Regions from separate parts of the Homo sapiens genome. Here all the other regions are reported to be linked to region 3. The links are microRNA targets in miRTarBase. Many come from high-throughput screens and were not tested one by one. Region 3 holds a microRNA gene; each other region holds the end of a gene's coding sequence.
Evidence for each region. The annotated mature microRNA hsa-miR-6843-3p reads AUGGUCUCCUGUUCUCUGCAG and lies in region 3 at 868-888, shown strand. An mRNA with a match to its seed (bases 2 to 7 or 8) in the 3' UTR can be bound and repressed. Matches are read on the target gene's strand: a 7mer-m8 pairs with bases 2 to 8, a 7mer-A1 pairs with bases 2 to 7 and ends in A, and an 8mer does both.

Region 1: miRTarBase lists UBA5 as a target of hsa-miR-6843-3p. Seed matches in the 3' UTR shown: 7mer-m8 at 2,784-2,790.
Region 2: miRTarBase lists MAN2A2 as a target of hsa-miR-6843-3p. Seed matches in the 3' UTR shown: 7mer-m8 at 2,176-2,182.
Region 4: miRTarBase lists TSPYL1 as a target of hsa-miR-6843-3p. The part of its 3' UTR that is shown has no 7-base or 8-base seed match.
Region 5: miRTarBase lists ATP1B3 as a target of hsa-miR-6843-3p. Seed matches in the 3' UTR shown: 7mer-m8 at 586-592.
Region 6: miRTarBase lists ZNF576 as a target of hsa-miR-6843-3p. Seed matches in the 3' UTR shown: 7mer-m8 at 1,282-1,288.
Region 7: miRTarBase lists TTPAL as a target of hsa-miR-6843-3p. The part of its 3' UTR that is shown has no 7-base or 8-base seed match.

What each region holds. Positions count from the first base shown.
Region 1 is chr3:132,676,283-132,679,361 of GRCh38, forward strand. It overlaps UBA5 (ubiquitin like modifier activating enzyme 5), which reads left to right. Exons shown (of 12, transcript NM_024818.6): 12 at 161-3,079. The coding sequence ends at 244. The region is part of intron 26 of NPHP3-ACAD11 (NPHP3-ACAD11 readthrough (NMD candidate)); the gene reads right to left. Among named protein-coding and RNA genes, the nearest start is that of UBA5, 17 kb to the left of the region's middle.
Region 2 is chr15:90,919,542-90,922,622 of GRCh38, forward strand. MAN2A2 (mannosidase alpha class 2A member 2) reads left to right here. Exons shown (of 23, transcript NM_006122.4): 23 at 94-3,038. The coding sequence ends at 246. Among named protein-coding and RNA genes, the nearest start is that of HDDC3, 11 kb to the right of the region's middle.
Region 3 is chr8:27,608,408-27,611,488 of GRCh38, reverse strand. It overlaps MIR6843 (microRNA 6843), which reads left to right and starts at 738; the gene lies at 738-888. CLU (clusterin) reads left to right here. Exons shown (of 9, transcript NM_001831.4): 2 at 889-1,014; 3 at 2,403-2,551. The coding sequence starts at 918. RefSeq lists enhancers at 340-1,047, 1,754-2,460.
Region 4 is chr6:116,275,648-116,278,728 of GRCh38, forward strand. TSPYL1 (TSPY like 1) reads right to left here. Exons shown (of 1, transcript NM_003309.4): 1 at 1-3,081. The coding sequence ends at 2,870. It also overlaps a transcript of DSE not described here. Among named protein-coding and RNA genes, the nearest start is that of TSPYL1, 2.7 kb to the right of the region's middle.
Region 5 is chr3:141,925,200-141,928,276 of GRCh38, forward strand. It overlaps ATP1B3 (ATPase Na+/K+ transporting subunit beta 3), which reads left to right. Exons shown (of 7, transcript NM_001679.4): 7 at 332-1,350. The coding sequence ends at 502. Among named protein-coding and RNA genes, the nearest start is that of ATP1B3, 50 kb to the left of the region's middle.
Region 6 is chr19:43,598,856-43,601,936 of GRCh38, reverse strand. ZNF576 (zinc finger protein 576) reads right to left here. Exons shown (of 3, transcript NM_001145347.2): 3 at 780-3,081. The coding sequence ends at 2,679. Among named protein-coding and RNA genes, the nearest start is that of ZNF576, 3.8 kb to the right of the region's middle.
Region 7 is chr20:44,489,127-44,492,207 of GRCh38, forward strand. It overlaps TTPAL (alpha tocopherol transfer protein like), which reads left to right. Exons shown (of 5, transcript NM_001039199.3): 5 at 137-3,081. The coding sequence ends at 415. Among named protein-coding and RNA genes, the nearest start is that of TTPAL, 15 kb to the left of the region's middle. RefSeq lists an enhancer at 869-978.

The sequences.
Region 1 (3,079 bases), not on the chromosome of region 3:
AAAGACTCTGTCTTTCTTCTAAAAATTAGAAGATAGTTGTTAAAGAAAATTTACTTTATAACCTTGTTGAGCATGGTCAAAACTTGCTGATTATATATTCCTAAGCATCAAGAATTCTATATGGTTCTTTTTTCACTGTATTTCCCTTATTTGTCAATAGCAAGAAGATTCTGTCACTGAGTTAACAGTGGAAGATTCTGGTGAAAGCTTGGAAGACCTCATGGCCAAAATGAAGAATATGTAGATAATGGACTGGGATATATTGTATTTCTCATGTTAAAGCCTCTTCCCTTGAAATTAAAAAAAAATTTTAACTGATAAAACTTAGGGCAACATTAATTAATGTATATTCTTACCTGAATTGTTATACTTTTTGAAAATCCTGTGACTTGCCTGTTTCTCCCCGCTCCAACGAAATCATTAACTCTCCTAAAATGTGTTTCATTCTAGTAAGAAAACCTCAAAGGATATTGTAGGATATAAATCTTACTTGAAAACATAGCTGTTGAAATGTTTTGGCCTTTTGGAGTGGGGGAAGGACAAATCTGATCCTGTAATCTTTTTCTTTCCAGTAATCCCTTGTGTCTGTTGCATGAGGACATGGACAATAAAGTAGTATATGATCCTCAGATACAGGGAGAAGGACAAGGCATACAGCTTATTGATTAGAGCTGGCAAGCATCTGCTCATTATGTTTGGAATTGCTTTCTATAAGAAAATTGCCCACTACTACTAACTTGATCAACAATGAATTCAAAATAGTTAACCTATGAAATAACATCCTCTCAAATGTTTGCTGATGAAGTACAAGTTGAAATGTAGTTATTGGAAAAGTCTGTAACCTGTGGATCATATATATTCAAAGTGAGACAAAGGCAAATAAAAAGCAGCTATTTTCATGAATAGACAAAGTTGATTTCAGGAAGTATAAATTATATTCTGCACCGAACAAGGAACAGAAATTATTGCATCTGTGGAACATATATCTGGAGTTACTATACTTTACTGAAGAGCAAGGCATAAATTTAGACTAAAATCCATCCAGATTACACTCATTCTTTAGGCTACTCCTGGATACTTCATTTAAATTTGATTTTCGAGGTAGTGAGATGTCGGCAAGGTTTGTCCTGTATATTAGGAATAAAGGAAAAGTTCTAAACTGCCTCTGCAATGACTTGTAGTCAGTGGAAGAGTATCACTTTCCCCTGATCATGACCACTAAACTGTAAATTGATATAAATTAGTTTTCTCTCGAGTTACACCCAAGTAATGAAGACTTAAGAGAACCTTGGTTGAAATAAATTTCCAATAGTTTGGAGACTCATAAATACCATGCAGGTGTAACCACTGCCAATAGGCTGTTTCTATGCTTATTTCCTATTTTGATTTTTACTTTGAAGATAGGAATATCTAAATTATATCTCTAGGGAGAAAATGTTGTAAAAAATTAAAAGTACATCCCTGATTGTAAAATAAAGTTCAAAAAACTGATTTCAGAAAGTCTCAACTACCAAATGTTTTCAATATATTAGTTTTGAGATGCTAGGATTATACTGTGATTCTTATGTTTATAGTAAAGTCTGGAAAGCAGAAGGATAGTTTTTTTAGCCTGGAAACTTATTTATGTTGCCTTGGTGAGTCTTCTATCATTTTTTAAAAATTTAGCTTATTGAACTGTAAAATAGCTTTTCTAGTATGAGAGATGTTTTGAATTTAAAAAATGAAATGCAGTTTTTCAAAAATAAATTTCCTTTGGAAATTCTTGCATATCAATTTAGTAAGGTTTTATAAAATTTTACAATTTGATAAAGTATCACATCTAGAATTCACTGTCTTCTTTTATCTGCTCTCAAGTTGGCATTGCATCACTGCCTGTGTCTTACACTGCACCAAATGTTACCTAATTGACCTAACTTTTTTTGTCTAATATCTTTCATTAAAAACAATTGGATTATTTAACCAGAAAAAAAATCTGGTAATAGAGATGTTGCTATCCTAGAATACTCTCTTGACAGTCTGTATGCCATGAAAACTTGCATAAGAAGGCAGCTGATTACGAAAAATTAATCATCATTGAATTTAGTATTACTAAACTCATAGCATTTGTCCAGATTTGTAAACACTATTGATTCTAATGTGAAAGATGGAAAAGCAGTCCCAGAATTGGCTTAGCACAGAGACTCTAAATGATAGTAAAACAACATATTCAACTTTAATTCCTGTCTTATTGTTAATGGGAAGTTAGTTATGGTTCTACTTAAATGTTGTAGAGAAAATAAGTATTACTAGTTTCTTCTCATAAAAATACTCCCTGGATACGTACACTGAACAACACAAAAAACGTAATGGCCACTTAAGAATATTTATTTATTTATTTATTTTTTTGAGACAGAGTCTCACTCTGTTGCCCAGGCTGGAGTGCAGTGGCACGATCTCAGCTCACCACATCCTCCGCCTCCCAGGTTCAAGCGATTCTCCTGCCTCAGCCTCCCAAGTAGCTGGGATTACAGGTGCCCGCCACCACGCATGGCTAATTTTTGTATTTTTAGTAGAGGCGAGGTTTCACCATGTTGGCCAGGCTGGTCTTGAACTCCTGACCTCAGGTGATCCACCCATCTTGGCCTCCCAAAGTGCTGGGATTATAGGTGTGAGCCACCACGCCCAGCCAAGAATATTTACTAAAGGAAGCTTTGACCCCTGCATCACATTTTTTTCATATTTCCCTTTCTGTAATCTCAGCACTTTGGGAGGCTGAGGTGGGTAGGTCAAGAGGTCAGGAGTTCGAGACCAGCCTGACCAACATGGCAAAACCCCGTCTCTACTAAAAATACAAAAATTAGCCGGGCGTGGTGGTGCGTGACTGTAATCCCAGCTACTTAGGAGGCTGAGGCAGGAGAATCGCTTGAACCTGGGAGGCAGAGGTTGCAGTGAGCTGAGATAGTGCCACTGCACTCCAGTCTGGAAAACAGAGTGAGACTCTGTCTCAAAAAAAAAGGTATTGATGAATAAAAATTATAACTAGAATAAGTACTCTAACAATTCAGATTTATAATTGAGTTGTCTGAAAGCTACCTTTTTC
Region 2 (3,081 bases), not on the chromosome of region 3:
ATTCTTAAAGAGGTACCAAATTGTAGATGAACAGCCACATTCTTTAGTGTCTCGGCACCTAGCACAACCCTGCCCCTTCTCTGCTCTCCACAGGTAGCCCTGGGCAGCCTTTTCCATGGCCTGGATGTGGTATTCCTTCAGCCAACCTCCTTGACGTTACTGTACCCTCTGGCCTCCCCGTCCAACAGCACTGACGTCTATTTGGAGCCCATGGAGATTGCTACCTTTCGCCTCCGCTTGGGTTAGGGCTTCTTGTGGCCTGAAGAGAAAGTTCATTCACAGAGACTGCCTCTTAACATGAAGATCATTGGACAAGCCACACGGGTATCCCATCCCGATCTGCCTCCCAGAACTGTGACACACTGGGCTCTGCCCTCATTTTCTGTTTATTGCTGCTGCTGTGTTTTCGGCGCAACCCACAAACCCAGTGATGGGTAAATAGGGCAGACGCCAGTGAGATCAGGGAGAGAAGGCCCTTGGTCAGAGTGGGCAGTGCCAGGCTCTGCTTTGGGTTGTGAGTGGACACCCAACTGGGCACAGGCTCAGGCACCCATCCTTTTTCCAAACAGGGATATAGAAGTGGTGGAAGCAGACAGAAGAGGTAAGGGAGGCTAAGTGGGTAACAGCCCAGCATCAGGGTCACTGTGGCAACAGCAGGCTCTAGGGGAATCCTGTGGTTATGTAGAGACTCCATGTCCTGGTGTGATGAGCAGGATCAGAGTGACTCTGGGAGGACAGGGGTGGGGACCCAGAGTTAGCAGTGGGGATGGAGCAGTAGAAGGAATCACTGTTTCTCCTAGGAGTCTGAAGGCCTCGCTGCTTTCTGTGATGGCTTTGCAGTAAGTGCCGCCTGGCCTGCATGCATTGGCTAACAGGCTGCAGAATGGCAGGAAGGACTCGCTAGAGATTGTCATGGCCAGAGATCATAGGTCACTTCAGGTAGCAAGACCCCTGGCAAACTGGGCACTTGGCCTATGTACTGATTTGTGGGATGGTGGCAGGGGTGTGGGGTCCTTCACCCTGCCTGAATTCTCTTTGGCTTCTGTGCTCTGTATGCTGCTGTCCCCAAGGGCTCTTTCTTATTATGGCAGGGAGTGGGGATTGGTCCTACTTTCTTTCTCTGGAAAGGAAAGCCTCCAAGACTCCATGTGCTTGGGCAGCTTGAGAAGGCGTTCAGCACCACGCCTAGCAGGCAGACCTTGAAGCCTCACCTTTAGTCTATCTGCAGAGGTATTCAGTTCCTGGCACAGGGGACTAGGGGCATGTAGAGTATATGAGGAGGCAGTATGGCTGTGCAGGAGCCTTCATTTCAGCTTCAATTAATAGGGAAGAATTTATGATAGCTCTATAGATGCTGAAAAGGTATTTCGTAAGATTTAAAATCCATCCCTTATTAAAACTCTTAGTAAATTAAGTCTGGAAAGAAACACCCTAATCTAGATAAAGGTCTGTTTCAGAAACCAACAGTGATGGCATTCTAAAGAGTCAGACGCCACAGGCATTCCCATTAAAGTCAGAAACTAGCCAAGGGCAAGCTATTATTCAGCAGTGTCCCGGCACTACTAACCCCTGCAACAAGCCAGATGAGGAACATAAGGAAGAATTATAATTGTCATTATTTGTAGACAATAAAACTGCCTACCTGTAAAACCTAAGAATCAACTGAAGACCTGTTAAGAGTATTCTGTAAGTCAACCCAATGATACACATCATGTTCCTGTCCACATACTGGTTTTCCCCAAATCAGCTGATAAATTCAGTGTAATTCCAATGAGATTGAAACTTTGGAATTGACAGTTCTAAAGTGCATTTGGGAGAGTGAATGTGTGAGAACACTAAGACCACTCTGAACGATGATAATGAGTTGGGGGGTGGACTGCTCGGGGGTGATCCTGCCAGATTCCCAGAGGATTCTCACGCCACCATTACCTCACTCAGTGTGACCTGGAGGGGGTCAGACAGACGGGAGAGTCCAGAAACAGACCCAGGGCTACAGGAATTTAGTATATGGTAAGAGGGATGTTTTAAGTGGGGAAAAAGGTGGATTATTTAATAAACAGCACTTTTAGACAACTAGCTATCAAAGCTAGATCTCAGCTGGGTGCGATGGCTCACGCCTGTAATCCCGGCACTTTGGGAGGCCAAGGTGGGTGGATCACTTGAGGTCAGGAGTTCGAGACCAGCCTGGCCAAGATGGCGAAACCCTGTGTCTACTAAAAATACAAAAACTAGCCAGGAATGGTGGCGCGCGCCTGTAATCCCAGTTACTTAGGAGGCTGAGGCAGGAGAATCACATCAACCTGGGAGGCGGAGGTTGCAGTGAGCTTAGATCATGCCACCATGCCACTGCACTCCAGCCTGGGTGACACAGCCAAAAAAAAAACCACTAAGTTAGATCTCTACCTCACAGTGTCCATACAAATTAGTTCCAGAGGGAAGATATACCACAAAATTACTCAAAAATTTTTATACCTCTGGTGTGGGACGGTCTTTTCTAAACTTTAACATGAGACTTAAAAGATATAATAAGGGAAAAGATAAGCAGATTTCGCAACCAAAAAATATCGAAAGTCTCTGTGTGATGGAAAACATCAAGGTTAAAACACAAATGACAGATATGGAAGAAAATATTTGCAGCACATAAAAAAATCAACGAGTACAATTACTTTAGGAGAAAAGCTTGCTTCAGGGTCCTTAGAGAAAGTCACTGGGGCCTGCCAAGCTGCCACCTAAAGACAAGAGTGAGAGGGCTGAGTTCTTCCAGGTCATCAGAGTTGTTGCTGCCCGTATTAGGCCACACAGTGGAACCCCATTTATATCATAGCAGAAGAAATAGGATTATCAATGTGAACTGCTTAGCATGGTGCCTGGTATATACGAGAGCTCCACAAATGTGAGCTATAATCCTACTAGTAAAGGATGCTAAGCAGTTCCACTGTGGCAGGTGTCATTTGCTAGTAGAATTTGTAATCAAACAATAGGAGGGGAATCTGTGAACGCCTAGAAAATGAGCAGAATAAAGGATATTATCTTTGGAAGTCTTAGATGTGCAATGAAATTATTTGTCTGACAGAAACGAAT
Region 3 (3,081 bases):
GACCGGGGCTATGGCCTGTGCCCCGTGGCTCAGGGCAGCCAGCCCAGTGGTGGCAGGAACACTGGCAGGGCAGCCTGCTGTCGGCTTAGAGGGGATGGGCAGTGTGGAGGGCCTGGCAGAGCAAGAGGACTCATCCTTCCAAAGGGACTTTCTCTGGGAAGCCTGCTCCTCGGGCCACTGCGAACCCTCTCTACTCTCCGAAGGGAATTGTCCTTCCTGGCTTCCACTACTTCCACCCCTGAATGCACAGGCAGCCCGGCCCAAGTCTCCCACTAGGGATGCAGATGGATTCGGTGTGAAGGGCTGGCTGCTGTTGCCTCCGGCTCTTGAAAGTCAAGTTCAGGTGGTGCTGAGACTCCCTGGGGGCTGCAGCGCTGTGGTGAATGGGGAGCGTCTGCTGGGGTGAAGGTTTAGGTGCACATTGCAGAGGACGTGGCTGGTCTCTGGGATGCAGTCCCTCTGTGGAGGTGGCATGGGGAGGGACGGATGCATGACCTAAGGGGGGTATTTTCAGTGTCTGACATGATCGATACCACTCTGGACAAGGAGGCCAGGATGCAGAAAGCCTGTGTGCCTCGCTGATTGTCGGGGAGGATGTGGCTTGGACAAGAGCCTGGTTCCTCCGATGCCAGGGTTCTTGTTTCTTCCACTCAACATTGCTGTCCTGCAGTCCCTCCCTCCCTGCACCTCCTGCCTTCGCTTTCATTCGAGGTGTCCATGGCAAGTCTGGTCATTTCCCCCCATTTCCTCAGGAATAAAAGTGCAGCAGTGCCTGCTGTGGGGACAGCTGAGGGCAGTGAGGCCCTGGGGAGCTGCTGCAGGCAGCAGGTGGGCGGGACGCCAGCAGGCTGTCTAGCTGTTCCCATGATGGTCTCCTGTTCTCTGCAGAGGCGTGCAAAGACTCCAGAATTGGAGGCATGATGAAGACTCTGCTGCTGTTTGTGGGGCTGCTGCTGACCTGGGAGAGTGGGCAGGTCCTGGGGGACCAGACGGTCTCAGACAATGAGCTCCAGGGTGAGTAGACCAAGCATGATGTTCCTCTGGCCACAGGGTGATGAGGTCAGAGGGCAGGGTAGCTAATTCTGCTCAGTGCCTCTCTATCAGGCCCCAGTGTTACAGACCGTTTTTATCTTGTGCACTGGGTCTGGGTGCCTGTGTCTGGGCCCACTCTGAGCCTCAGCTCCGAGGCCCCTGGTTCAGGCTCTGCGTGCATCAGACTGCCGGCATTTGCAGGCATTTCCCAAGCACTTTCGGCTGTTGCATTTCATTCAGCTCTTCCCCTCCCAGGCCCCTTAGCCCAGCTCCCAGGCCTCCTCCACGAAGCTGTGTCTGGACCACCGGAGCTCTTATCCCTCTCCCCTTTGGAGTGCCCAGAGCTTATCCCTCCTGTGAGCTGACGGTTTCTGCAGGATCATTGTTAAAAACCCAGATCAGACATGGGTGTGAGTCTGTTTCACCTCTTCTCAGCTGGGTGACTTTGGGCCACTATCTTGATCTCATGACACTCCCCCCACCCCCCATTTTATTGAGATATAATTAACAAATAAAAATTGTGTATATTTAAGGTATATGACGTGATGTTTTGAAATGCACATACATTGAAATGATGACCACTTTTTATGGTGGGACGGTGGGAAGACTTAAAATCTACTTTCTTAGCAAATTTCCAGTTATGATATGGTGTTATTAACTATAAGCACCACCTGTATGTTAGACCTCCAGAACATACTCCTCCTACCTGATGAACACTTTGACCCTTTATCATATCACACTTCCCATGTCTCCCTCTGCGAAGTGGGCACGGCGGGGGGCTGGAGCATTATGTAAACTGCACATGAAGTGTTTGGCGCAGTGCTTGGCATGGGATAAACACCAGTGAAGTAGCACTTAGGTGACACAGTGTTTCGCTGCATTTGTCACCAGTGCTATACCTTACTCATTTACTCATCTTCTTATTCCTGTCGCCTGGCACTGCATTGGAACAAAGAAATACACATATCTGTTTAAACTGAACTCTAGAAAGATTTGTGTCCAAAATAACAATATTTTATATTTTGATGCTGCAAAGCTGACACTTCTGGGTTTTTTTTTTTCCTTGCCAAGTTTCTTCTGCACCCAGCTCATTCTCCAGGGGCACATGGCAGTGGCTGGGCATAACTCTGGGTGTGCCGGCTCCCATGGTCTGCATTTCTAAGCAGTAGGGTGCAGTCAGCAAGGAGCCTGTGATGGGAGCCTGTGCCAGGGCAAGGCTGGGGCCATGCTGCTGCCTGCTGGCAGGAGTGGGGGTCCCAGCCTTGACAGCCCCTGAACTGAACGGGCCTTTCTGGCCATCCAGCTCATTCCAGGGTCCTGAGGCCACCTCTTCCTCTCGCCTCATTCTGCCTCTTGCACTTCTCTTGCAGAAATGTCCAATCAGGGAAGTAAGTACGTCAATAAGGAAATTCAAAATGCTGTCAACGGGGTGAAACAGATAAAGACTCTCATAGAAAAAACAAACGAAGAGCGCAAGACACTGCTCAGCAACCTAGAAGAAGCCAAGAAGAAGAAAGAGGTCAGGAGGAGCCGCTACCGCCTCCCTGCCTTGACCATCCCACTGGAGGGGAGGGAGGGGGTCACTGCGCGGTGCCCTGCTGGGTTGCCATGGTGACCCGCAGTCCTCCCAGGCTGTGTCAGCTGATGCTGAGGCTGCAATTAAGAAGCAGGGAAGGTTCATTTGCTTCTGAAAGCATCAGGGAGTGAGATCTTGGATCTGGTTTTGTTATGAGCCTGGCCCAGGGCCTAATGCCCAGATTCATTTCAATAGATGTTTCTAAGCCCTGATCACATGCTAGTTCCAAGCAGGCTCTGGATGGGGTGGCGGCAGGGGCCCAGACAGGCGTGGCGTCCAACCTTCAGGAAGCTTATCTAATAGGGGTGATATGGTTAGGGTTAAGGCAGGCACACAGCACCCCACGTCTTGCTAGAGTTCTGGACTACTTCATAAAGAAACATCTTAAGCCCAGTAGTGGATATAGCAGGTCTAGCCTGTGCTTAATGATTCAACAAAACTAAAACACTATAATTCAATGAACAACTTATTTA
Region 4 (3,081 bases), not on the chromosome of region 3:
AAATTAGCCGGGCGTGGTAGCACGTGCCTGTAGTCCCAGCTACTCGGGAGGCTGATGCTGGAGAACTGCTTGAAACCGGGAGGCGGAAGTTGCAGTGAGCCGAGATCGCGCCACTTGCGCTCCAGCCTGGGCAAGAGTGGGACTCTATCTCAAAAAAAAAAAAAAAAAATGCTAGATGCAATGAACCATGTAAAATGCACTGCATCTCCACTTTCACAAAGTTTCCAAACTACTGAGAGGAAAAGAGTGAACATGGGAAAAACATGAAAATATAATCTCTGTATTTTATTTTACTGTATCACTCTGTTAATTCTTTGTTTGCTTATCAGTCCTTCCCCAGTTCCCCAAAGAAGGGAATGGACTTTATCTTCTTACTCTTTTTCTCTATTTGTGGAATTCACTGTAATGAATAATTATGTTAATTTTCTAGAACAGAGGTCCCTCCAAAGTACACTAAGTGCATAAAGAAACATTTATCTCCTCTATGGGGAACAGAAAGACTTTGGCAGAGGAATTACCAAGGGCAGGCCTTGAAGGATTTGACAGAAGAGAACAGTGAGGAAGTTTAAAGAAAAAAAGGAAGTTTTTACAGATGAGAAAGTATGAAAATAGAGGAGTACATCACATATGATAGGTACTCCCTGCATACAAGTTAATAAAAAGAAGAGCCTGAATAACCTGAGAATATAATTTATGGAGACAGAAATGGAGGATTTGAGCAACTGAAGGGGAGGTTGTGCTGCATAAACTACATGGAAAAAAGTGATTGAGTAAGCAGTTGCAACTGCTAACGTTTTAAGGCAAACTACCTTGGAAGGTACCAAACATACCGTGCCCTGCTTTCTTCTCTTTGGGATAATGTCTATTGTGTCCATTTAAGGACTTTAATGATTCTGTAATTTTTAGTTAACATCAATTTAAGGACTTTAATGATTTTAATCCATTAAGAACTTTAATGATTTTAATCCATTAAGAACTTTAATGGATTAAAGGACTTTAATGATTCCATAATTTTTAATTAATATGAACAACTTCATTCAAGCATTACATTTATGGGTAAGGTGAAAAATAAGAAATCTAGCAGAACAACATGCTTTTATTTTACCATCATGCATAAAAAGGAAGACAAATATGCCAATGGTACACTTCCAATTTGTCAGAGCAATTTCACAGTATTTAAGCAATTTAGGAAAAAAGATATATCACTTACTAAGTTGTTACCAGGGAAAATTATCATGTAAGACAATCAATTAAACCATACTTTTGTAGATTATTTTTCCATGAAGGCAATTTGACAAGCCTAACAAAGACCAAGTTGTTCAAACTATGTTTCTAGGAATATAGTTTAACAGAAACAAGAACAAGTTGAAAACTGTTATGACTATTCATATGTCTCTATATTGTACAGGCAAGTAAGACTGTTGTTCTTCCAAATGTTCCCAATTGAAATCAAAAGAATATCTGTACAGCTCAATTTTCACAATAAGTTTAGAATCAGAAAAAAAAATTTTACTAAATCCTAATGAAATAACAATCTTCCACATAAATTAGGTCACAAAACAAGTAAGAAAGCATTCAAAGTTGCGCTGTCTTTCTTTAAAGAACCCTTGTCTAGGCAACATATTTAACACTTTAACCCCTTCAATTCTCCCTGAAAAGTATTTTTCCATTCATCATCATTGGGGAGTAAGTACTCCTTCCTCGAAAGCTCTTAACGACAGCACAGTCTTCACTCTAGGCCCAATTTTTACCTGGCCCATGCCTCTAGCCTTTTGTTCAGTTTCTCCTGCTTAGGGCACCTTTCATCCCATCTAGATGTGTCTCTCTTTAACTATTCTAGGAGTTGATAAAAGGGCTAGGAAGTAGGAAGTTGGGAAGAAGGGGAGGGGCGTAAGAGCTCTAGCACTCTATTTTACAGGCCAACTTCTTTGCCTCTGAAAATGACAGAGCCAAAATGAAATAAAAACCTTGCTTTTACAAATGTTTCTGAGCTATCACTTTTTTAAGAGAGGATTGGGAGGCTAAGGAGGGCGGATCACGAGATCGGGGTTCGAGACCAGCCTGGCCAGCATGGTGAAACCCCGTCTCTACTAAAAATATAAAAATTAGCCGGGCGTGGCGGCGCGCGCCTGTAGTCCCAGCTACTCGGGAGGCTGAGGCAGGAGAATCGCTTGAACCCGGGAGGTGGAGGTTGCAGTGAGCCGAGATCGCGCCACTGCACTCCAACCTGGGCGACAGAGCAAGACTCCGTCCTCCGTCTCAAAAAAAAAAAAAAAAAAAAAAAAAAGGAAAACAGGGAGAGAGAGGGACCTTGGCAGGAGCCAATGTAGGGCAGGTAGCAATAGAAAGTGACTAGAGGTGAAGGAAGAGCAATGAAGTACCATAAATCACACAGAACAAGTGGCTCACTGCTTTTCTCCTCTGAGTTCATTAACGTCCAGTAACTGTCCACAGGGCATGTGCCCATACTGCTCAATGCAGAGCTGAGTAGGTGGAACAGGCTCCCAAAGCTAGAAATCCAAGTGACAGCAACCAGTTCAGAGGCCCTGGGAATAAACAGGGTCCAAGCAGTGCAGATAAAGGCAGTACAATCTACAGTATCATTTGCTTGGCTTACAAGTAGTGTGAAGGATGACCTCGTAGCATGTGATATTCCAGAACAGCATGAAGGTCATATGGAAGTGGAGAAGCATACCCACCACCGTCTCAATCTTGAGGTTGAGAGAACTGAATATCCAAAGGAAACAGGGTGCAGAAAAGTCAGCAAAAACAAAGCACAATAGAAGGCATACTCATTGCTGATGCCCAAGCACAGGTCCAGCAGAAGGTGGTAGGAGACCTTGTGCAGGAGTATTCCCAAGGGCAAATGTTAACCAGACTGGAACCCAAAGGGCCTGGGGATCTCTACAGGCTCCCTTAGCGGGCGACGTCGGGCTCTACGGACTCCTTCACGCAACAGGTAGTATTGCAGTGGATTTGGCCACAGATCCTCTTTAATAATCTCAGCAATTTTGTCGGACTCTGGAAGGCTGTGGTCTGAAAACCAAGTGAAGAAGCTGCAGATGAGGTCTTGGTTTCTGC
Region 5 (3,077 bases), not on the chromosome of region 3:
CTCACACCTGTAATCCCAGCACTTTGGGAGGGTGAGGTGGAAGGGCCATTTGAAGCGAGGAGTTTGAGATTAGCCTGGGCAGGGAGACCCTGTCTCTACAAAAAAATTTAAAAATTAGTGGGCTGTGGCGGCATGTGCCTATAGTCCCAGCTACTTAGGAAACTGAGGTGGGAGGATTGGTTGAGGCTTCAATGAGCCATAATTGCACCACTGCACTGCAGCCTGGGCAACAGTCTCAAAAAGAAAATTTACAGAATAAGCCAATTCCTGGTAGAGAGAAGTATTAAGTTTCCATAGAGTTTGAATTAATATATTTTCCTTTTATTGCCAGGTTGGGTATCTACAGCCATTGGTTGCTGTTCAGGTCAGCTTTGCTCCTAACAACACTGGGAAAGAAGTAACAGTTGAGTGCAAGATTGATGGATCAGCCAACCTAAAAAGTCAGGATGATCGTGACAAGTTTTTGGGACGAGTTATGTTCAAAATCACAGCACGTGCATAGTATGAGTAGGATATCTCCACAGAGTAAATGTTGTGTTGTCTGTCTTCATTTTGTAACAGCTGGACCTTCCATTCTAGAATTATGAGACCACCTTGGAGAAAGGTGTGTGGTACATGACATTGGGTTACATCATAACGTGCTTCCAGATCATAGTGTTCAGTGTCCTCTGAAGTAACTGCCTGTTGCCTCTGCTGCCCTTTGAACCAGTGTACAGTCGCCAGATAGGGACCGGTGAACACCTGATTCCAAACATGTAGGATGGGGGTCTTGTCCTCTTTTTATGTGGTTTAATTGCCAAGTGTCTAAAGCTTAATATGCCGTGCTATGTAAATATTTTATGGATATAACAACTGTCATATTTTGATGTCAACAGAGTTTTAGGGATAAAATGGTACCCGGCCAACATCAAGTGACTTTATAGCTGCAAGAAATGTGGTATGTGGAGAAGTTCTGTATGTGAGGAAGGAAAAAAAGAAAATAAAAGTGTGTTTGAAAAATATTATCTTGGGTTCTTTGTAAAATTTATTTTTTACATGCTGAATTAGCCTCGATCTTTTTGATTAAGAGCACAAACTTTTTTTTGTAAAACATGTAAAAAAAAAAACTGGGATTAATTTTTAGTGTTGGAACTGCCTCTTATTTTAGGCTGTAGATAAAATAGCATTTTTAGGTTAGCCAGTGTGACTATGCACCTAATTTTTTATGAGATTAAATTCATAAGACTTAATTTGTACAATAGTTTGTGAAATATCTTGTTACTGCTTTTATTTAGCAGACTGTGGACTGTAATAAAGTATATAAATTGTGAAATATAAAAACTTGGAACTTATTCAAAGCTTCAAAGCAAACAACAGTTTTGTGTAAGCATTCTTTCCCCTCCAGTATTAGGTGTATTCTTGGTAGGATTATTTGTGATAATTTGGGCTACTTGGCTGAGAAAGTTGTGCTTCCCATATGATCTGTGTTGCTTCTTGTTTTTTCTTAAGGCTGTTGTTTATTGTTACTTTTCTCCTTTTTTAAAAAAAAAAAAAGGCAGCCGGGCGCAGTGGCTCACGCCTGTAGTCCCAGCACTTTGGGAGGCCGAGGCGGGCGGATCACAAGGTCAAGAGATCGAGACCATCCTGGCCAACATGGTGGAATCCCGTCTCTACTAAAAATATAAAAATTAGCTGGGCGTAGTGGTGCGTGCCTGTAGTCCCAGTTACTCGGGAGGCTGAGGCAGAAGAATCGCTTGAACCCAAGAGGCGGAGGTTGCAGTGAGTCGAGATCACACCACTGCACTCCAGCCTGGTGACAGAGCGAGACTCTGTCTGCAAAAAAAAAAAAAAACGGCAAAGCAGATATTCTTGAGGTTTTCTTTGTGGTGGTGCAAGCCAGAAGGGGTGGGACCCAACCCAGCTGGCTCAAGAATGGCCGTTTGGAGTAAACGTGAGGGCTCTGGGTGGCCTTGCCTGGCCAGATGGGCCTTGGTGGCCTGGCGGCAGCCTCTGCCCTTTAGTAGTGGGCACTCAGCCCCACGTCAGAGCTCTGCTTGTTCCTCTGTCACTAAAATCATAGTGATAAGAGATTTTCACTGAAGGAAATTATTGGAGTAATTACAGCAAACCTTTTCTGGGTTTTGATTTTCTTCTTTATGCTATCTCTTAAGAGTGTAAAACAAGGATAAAAGAATGCTACGATGTGAGAGAGGTGACATGACTTTAGTTGGGCCAGTGTGACCTCATCCTCAACAGCTGTAAACTTTGGTGCCTGTGAAATTCATATTAAGTATTCTATTAAATTGTATTTTTGAGTCTTTTGAAGTAAATATGGATGGAATTTCTGTTTTAACGAGCTTAGATAAAAGACTCATTCTCAATACACAAGAAGAATTGAGATGGCATCCAACATAGGGTGGGTGTTGGAGACAAATAAAAATGGCACACACATGTAAGTCACTAAAGCATCTTGTATGCCTCCCTGGTTCAGAAGTTTGGACGTGGATCAGCACCTGACTGCCCAGTGATCTTAGCTGATCTCCCCAACTTCTCCTGGCTCTGCTTGCTTCATCTATCGAAATTAAGGCAGTTTAACAACAATTTAGCAGACCTGCTATATACCGGACTGGATCAGCCAGACTTTGAGGATACAGAGATGAAAAGACATGGTTTCTCAAAGATCTTAAACTAGGAGGGAACAGGCTCTGAGACACAGCACGTGGCATGATGATGGTGATGGCGCTGACATGCAAGAGGCCATGAGGTGGGGTAAGACTAGATTATTCCAAAGGTCCCACCCTTCCCTAAAGTTTATTTTTGTGAAAGATCTCAAGAGATAGGTGGTGCTTGATGGAGGAGGAAGAGTGGCTGGGAGTTGGGCCTGTATGGGCCAGGTAAGGACTGGACTCGGAACGAAGGATGCCTGGACACAGCTGGAGTCCGCCTTTCTGCTGCTGACTTCAGGTTTTCCTCAGCATTTCAGGATGTGCTTACAGATCACCTGGGTATCTCATTAAAATGCAGATTCCAGTTCACTAGGAGGGACTCTATAGATGTAGCAACTCCAAGGTAATACCTACCACTGCTCATTCACAGAC
Region 6 (3,081 bases), not on the chromosome of region 3:
CAAAGTGAGACTCAAAAAAGAAAAAAGAATTTAAGAGTGCACAGTTTACTAACATGATGGCAATGGTGGTGCAGGTTGGGCCGCAGGAGTCCTGTTGACCCATTTTAAGTTTGAGATCTCCATTTGTTTATTCAAGTGGTTATATCTTATGTCTGGGGTTTGGGCTGCAGATAAAGATGTGGATGTCATCAGTGATGCTATTTAGAGAATCTGTGATGTCTGGAGAGAACAGGAAGCCCAGGGTGTACTTGGGCAGGCTGCTATCTTGGGAGAGCATGTGGGATTAGATACTTAGGTTTGGTTTAGGGGAGCCACTGTGGGGGTAGTGTGACAATATCTGGGTTGGAAACTTCGGAGCATTCACCAGGAGCCAGAGGAAATATCTGGCTCTTCATGAAGTTGGTATCTTGAAAAAAACTGATGGTCTACTAACTCCAACCAGTCTCCCCATAAGTCACCCCAGCAAAGAGATCCAGGGTAGCCCTGCCCCAAAACACACACACACACACATACCCTACCTACCTACCTACCTGGTAAAGATGGTGGTTCCCAGGATGGAAATTTCTGCTTCCAGACTCAGAGTAGGTTGAATGTCTTATTAGACCAGGGGTTGGCAAACTTCTCCTGTAAAGGGCTAGATGGTAACTATTTTAAGTTCTGTAGGCCTTAAAATCTCTGTTGCAACTATGCAGATCTGCTGTTCTAGGCAAAAGCAGCCATCAACGATACATAAGTGAATGAGTATAAAACTGTTCAAATAAAATTTTATTTGCAAAACCAGGCAGCAGGCTAGAGTTGGCCATAGTTTGCAGACCCCTGTCTTAGGCTGTAAATTCTGTTGCATGTGACAGAGACCCAAAATAATGGTGGCTTAAATAAGATAGAAGTTTCTTTCTTAGATAGCAATATGGAAGTGGGCTGGTATGGTGGCTGTGCTCCTTGAAATTGACGAGAGACCCAGGCTCCTATCTTGTTGCTCTGTCTTCCCACGTGTTGCTCTTATCCTTATGGTCTGAGATGGCTGGATACCATTTCCGTATTACAGTTAGGAAGGTGGAAAAAAGGTATGTCCCTTTCTTTTCTTTTTTTTTAAACAGTCTCACTCTGTCACCCAGGCTGAAGTGCAATGGCACGATCTTGGCTCACTGCAACCTGTCTCCCAGGTTCAAGCAATTCTCCTGCCTCAGCCTCCCAAGTAGCTGGGATTACAGGCATATGCCACCACACCCGGCTAATTTTTGTATTTTTGGTAGAGACAGGGTTTCACCATGTTGGCCAGGCTGGTCTCAAACTCCTGACCTCAGGTGATCCACCGGCCTCAGCCTCACAAAGTGCTGGGATTACAGGCGTGAGCCACTGTGCCCAGCCGTCCCTTTCTTAAGCTTGACTGTTCTACCCAGGAATTTAGCCAGAAATCAGTCACAAGGCCACATCTAGCTGCAAAGGAATCTGGGAAATGCAGTCTTTTCAGCTACTGTGTGCCTAGCTAAAAACAGAGACAGTGATCAGTCTACCACATCCACCTCACCTGTGGGCTTTAAAAACATCCCTCAACATAAACAGAGTCTATAAGTATTATATGCAAGGCATCGACCATTGTCTGCAGGTGCAGGGCAGGTAACTAAGGGGGTAAAACTGGCCTGGTGGGACTCATCTCCAGTTGAGGGTGACACCCACTGCTCCCTCCAGCCTGTTGTAACTTCTGTCCTGCCCCTGCTGACAATGTCAGCCTAGGTTGGGCCTTTCAAGAGAGCTGAAAATAGGATCTTAATGGGAAATCTCCCAGTGTTGGCCAAATAAAACCCGAAACAGAAGGTATCTCTGTTTGATTCCAAACCAGTTTCCCCACAAAGCGAGGCCAACTCTGGCCTGAGTTCCCCCACCTGCCCACACCCTTATGTTCTCTGGAAATTCCCACTCAAAAGCCAGAGCTCCCTGTTTAGACATTTTAATATGGATGTTTTCTGTTTTTAGATACTATTCCTGTTAGCTTATTCATACCATTTCACCTACACATATGAAAAAAATATTTCAGGACTAGAATGATATACAAAATTATTTCAACGAGACATAAATTATCGGGGGACTAGTGCCATCTAGTGCCATGGCCCCTCTAAGTGAGGATGGCAGGGGGTGGAAAAGAGACACAAGGACTCCAATTGCTACCCCCACTCAATTGGGGTCCAGCTCCCAACTTTGCTGCCCCATCCCCAAAAGCCCAAGTTGCTCCACATCTGGAACTCACCTGGTGGCATTACAGGCCAGCAACACCTCACCTTTCCTGCCCCCATTCAGGCAAAGGTCCAGGGCAATTTGCTCCCATAGCCCATGGCATCCATCTGGGAAGAATGAAGGGTGATGGCACAATCTGCAGCTAGGTATTTAACTGGGAATAAGGGAGACACAAACCATTTCTCTCCCGCACTCCCTTCCCATTTTTTTTTTTTAACAAAAGATCTCATTATTATCTGATTTCACTGTCTCACGAAGGCCCTGTGTGCTCCAAAGACTGAAGCTCTAAATAAGAATCTTCTGGGTCCTCTTTATTAAGAGCCCTCTGCCTTCCCAGGGGAGGGAAGCAAATCCTTCAGGGCCCCCAGAGTTCCTGCACCCCATATCATGGGTGAGTCCTACCAGCCACAGAGCCACCCGTCACCGTGGAGAGGCTTAAGCTGCACTCAGAGCTCCCCCCGGGCATGCCGAATGTAGTGTTGATGCAGCCCTGCTTCCTGAGCAAAGTCCTGACCGCACTCTGTGCAGGCGAAGGTGCCAGGAGGGGCACGGACCTCATGCATCTGGCGGTGCCGCCTCAGAGAAACAGCCTGCCCAAAGGTCTTGCCACAGTCAGGACAAGGGAAGGTGGGCTGGGCAGTAGTGGTTGCAACCGGCAGGGTGGGCTTGGCGGCTGGACCGTGGCTGCGCTGGTGGGTGATTAGGGCTTTGGAGGAGGGGAAGGAGCGGGCGCAGGTGAAGCAGATGAAGAGGACCCCCTGCAGCTTCTGGGCCACGAAGTCCGCTGGGTGCTCCCGCTTCATGTGACGCTCCTGGAACTTGGAATCTGCGAAGGTGATGAGGCAGCGG
Region 7 (3,081 bases), not on the chromosome of region 3:
AAAGTAAGGGTAGAGTTGCCATTAACATTTCCTTTCTTCATTCAACAGATATTTATTTGAGCACCTACCATGGAGGAGATTTCTGCATTCCTGATTAACCTAAGGACATGTGTGTTTTCATTTCATTCCCTTTTAGTTCTTCCTCCATGGGTCTGACTTGAACTCTCTCCACACAAACCTTCCAAGAAGCATCCTCCCCAAGGAGTATGGGGGCACGGCTGGGGAGCTGGACACTGCCACCTGGAACGCGGTACTGCTGGCTTCAGAAGACGATTTTGTGAAAGAGTTCTGCCAACCTGTTCCTGCCTGTGACAGCATCCTGGGCCAGACGCTGCTGCCCGAGGGCCTGACCTCAGATGCACAGTGTGACGACTCCTTGCGAGCTGTGAAGTCACAGCTGTACTCCTGCTACTAGCCCGTCCCCCAGGGTCACCATCTTTAATTCTTTTCCTTCTTTTCTTTGGAGAGGCACAAGGAGAATTTAAGGGTCCATGGATTCAGTCTTGCTCCTTGTAATTAAACTGCAGGATGGAGGAACAGCCTGAGATATGAGCATGAGCCCATTTTGGGGTAAGCCTTTGGTTACTTTAATTACTCCATGGAAGACATGGAAAATGTCCCCACTGATTCTTAAACATTTGGAATCCCAGTCTGCAACTATTAATCTGGAGGCTATATCTATTTTGTTTTGCTTTTTGGTTGGGGGGTGGTGATCTGGTTCTTACACATCTTGGAAGCAAGAACAATCAGGACCAAAGTCACTTTGATCCCACTTTTCCAGGAGAAAAACCACCTGTTTGGCCAGTGAGAACTACTTGTATGAAATAATTTGGCCAAACCTTCAGTGTGACCAAATGTGAGACTGGGAGTTTGTGTTTTTCACAGGAACCCTAAGTATAGACCTCTGCTGCTCATCAGGAAACTTACTGGAGATGAAGGCCCCAGCTGTTGTCACCGGGTTTGGAAAGCACCTTAACTGAATCATGTAAGCATCAGGACATAAGCAGCACTTTGTGGTCAAATGTGGAAGCCGGAGACTTCAAAGCACCTCTGGGACCCACTGGTTGAAGTTTGCAATAGAAACTTAAGTTTTCCCAAATCCATAAAGCCTTAGCCCTGGTTCTCAATAGAATCAGGGACCTAGCAGGAAATGATTTTACTCAACCTAAAATGCTGGATCCCAGGCCCGTGTAGCTATAAGAATTCTGGCCTGGATCCCAGGTGTACAACTATGGACAAGATATGGGCCTCTACTTTCTCCTCTATAAAATGAGGCTGGATGAAATGTCAGCTAGGGCCATTTTGGCTGCTGAGGCTCTGGGATTTGGTTTAGTTACTGAATGTTAGATTTTCTGCCTAGAAAGATAACTATCTAGATACAAGTGGTTGGATCCTGTTTTTGTTTGTGGTACATGTGTCTTTCCAAGAGAGATGTGTCACCAATTAGCCCTGCCTTTAAAGAAACTATTATGTGTATTCCTGGGACTCACTGACACCAATTTTCTTTTTATAGTGATGGTTCAATTTTGAAAAGATGGCTTTTGTGAGGCCAGGTTAAGGTGACCAGGATCTTGTATGATGAATTCCTTCCATCCCTGAGACTCTGGTACTATATTGTAAACCTGGCTACAGTAGTTAATTACTTGAGATTCTTTAATTTTGGTCTCTGAGCTGGGCGTGGTGGTTCATGCCTGTAATCCCAGCACTTTGGGAGGCCAAGGTGTGCGGATCACAAGGTCAGGAGTTCGAGACCCGCCTGGCCAAGATGGTGAAACCCCATCTCTACTAAAAATACAAAAATTAGCTGGGCGTGGTGGCGGGCTCCTGTAGTCCCAGCTACTCGGGAGGCTGAGGCAGAAGAATCACGTGAACCCAGGAGGCAGAAGTGGCAGTGAGCCAAGATCGCACCACTGCACTCCAGCCTGGGCGACAGAGCAAGACTCTGCCTCAAAAAAAAAAAAAAAAAAAAAAAATTTTTTTTTTTTTGGTCTCTGGAAATGAACACAAGGGCAGGTTATTCCTGGGTCACTTCTGGGCCCCCCTGCCCTCCCAGCCCCACTTGAGTTTCTCTCTCTGGTGTGGGTGAACCAGTCAGCCTGAATGTTCTGCATTTCAGCACTTTAGAACCTCCCTGTGAAGATTTTAGCCTTAGCCCAAACATCAAATTAGACGGTTCACATGATGGTTTTTGACCTATTTCCTTTCTAATGTATTCCACATGATCATGGTGTTAAATAGTGAAAAGTACTGTGTTGTGTGTGCACCTTCTCCGTGCATTTATTAGACTAACCAGTCAAGCAGACAGCTCAGTTAGGGAGAAAACAATACTCTGAAATTTGAAGGCCAATCTGTTGTTACTAAGCTGTTTATCTCTATTGCCTTTTTAAATGTCTGGATAAGTTGTTGGTGGAAATTAAGTTACTTAACCTCATTAATACCAATTCTAGAGAAAGTTCTTTTCACCATGGATAGTAACCCTGGATCCTCTACGGTACTGGCTGAGCTGGAAGTGCCAAAAAGCACTCCTGGCTGCTTCTGGTTCCATCTGATGATGATGTGACACACACTGCTGAAAAGGCCCAAGCAGGGCAAGTGGGATGGCTGAAGGAGGGAAGGAGGGGGTTCAGAACCCACTGGCCTGGATGGGAGAACTGGGTGGAGGCTTCCCCAAGAGGGAAGACAGATAAACAAAACAAAACAAAAACTGGGTAAAGAGGAATGAATCACTCAGCCCTGATGTTTCAATTCTACACTGCATTCCTGGCCAGTCGCATTTGTTTTAATGCAGGCATGGCCACAGCTCTCCTAGAGAATTATCTCAAAGACCAGAAGGGACCTGGAGAGGCCTATTTCTTAGGTTTTTCCAGTTGGACAAGGAAGGAGTGGTTTCACTCAGCTTCTAGAAGGAGTTGGAGCCTAAGTTTATCTGCCTCCGGGAGCTGCTTGCTTTGTTTTGGCTCCGAAGAGGTATCAGATAGTTTTGACACCTCAGGAAACTTGAACCAAGCTGTGAAACCAAGACCTCCCTGCGTGAAAATCAAGGTGGTCTCCTTGTGGCTTCACCAGGATGTTTGTGTCAGG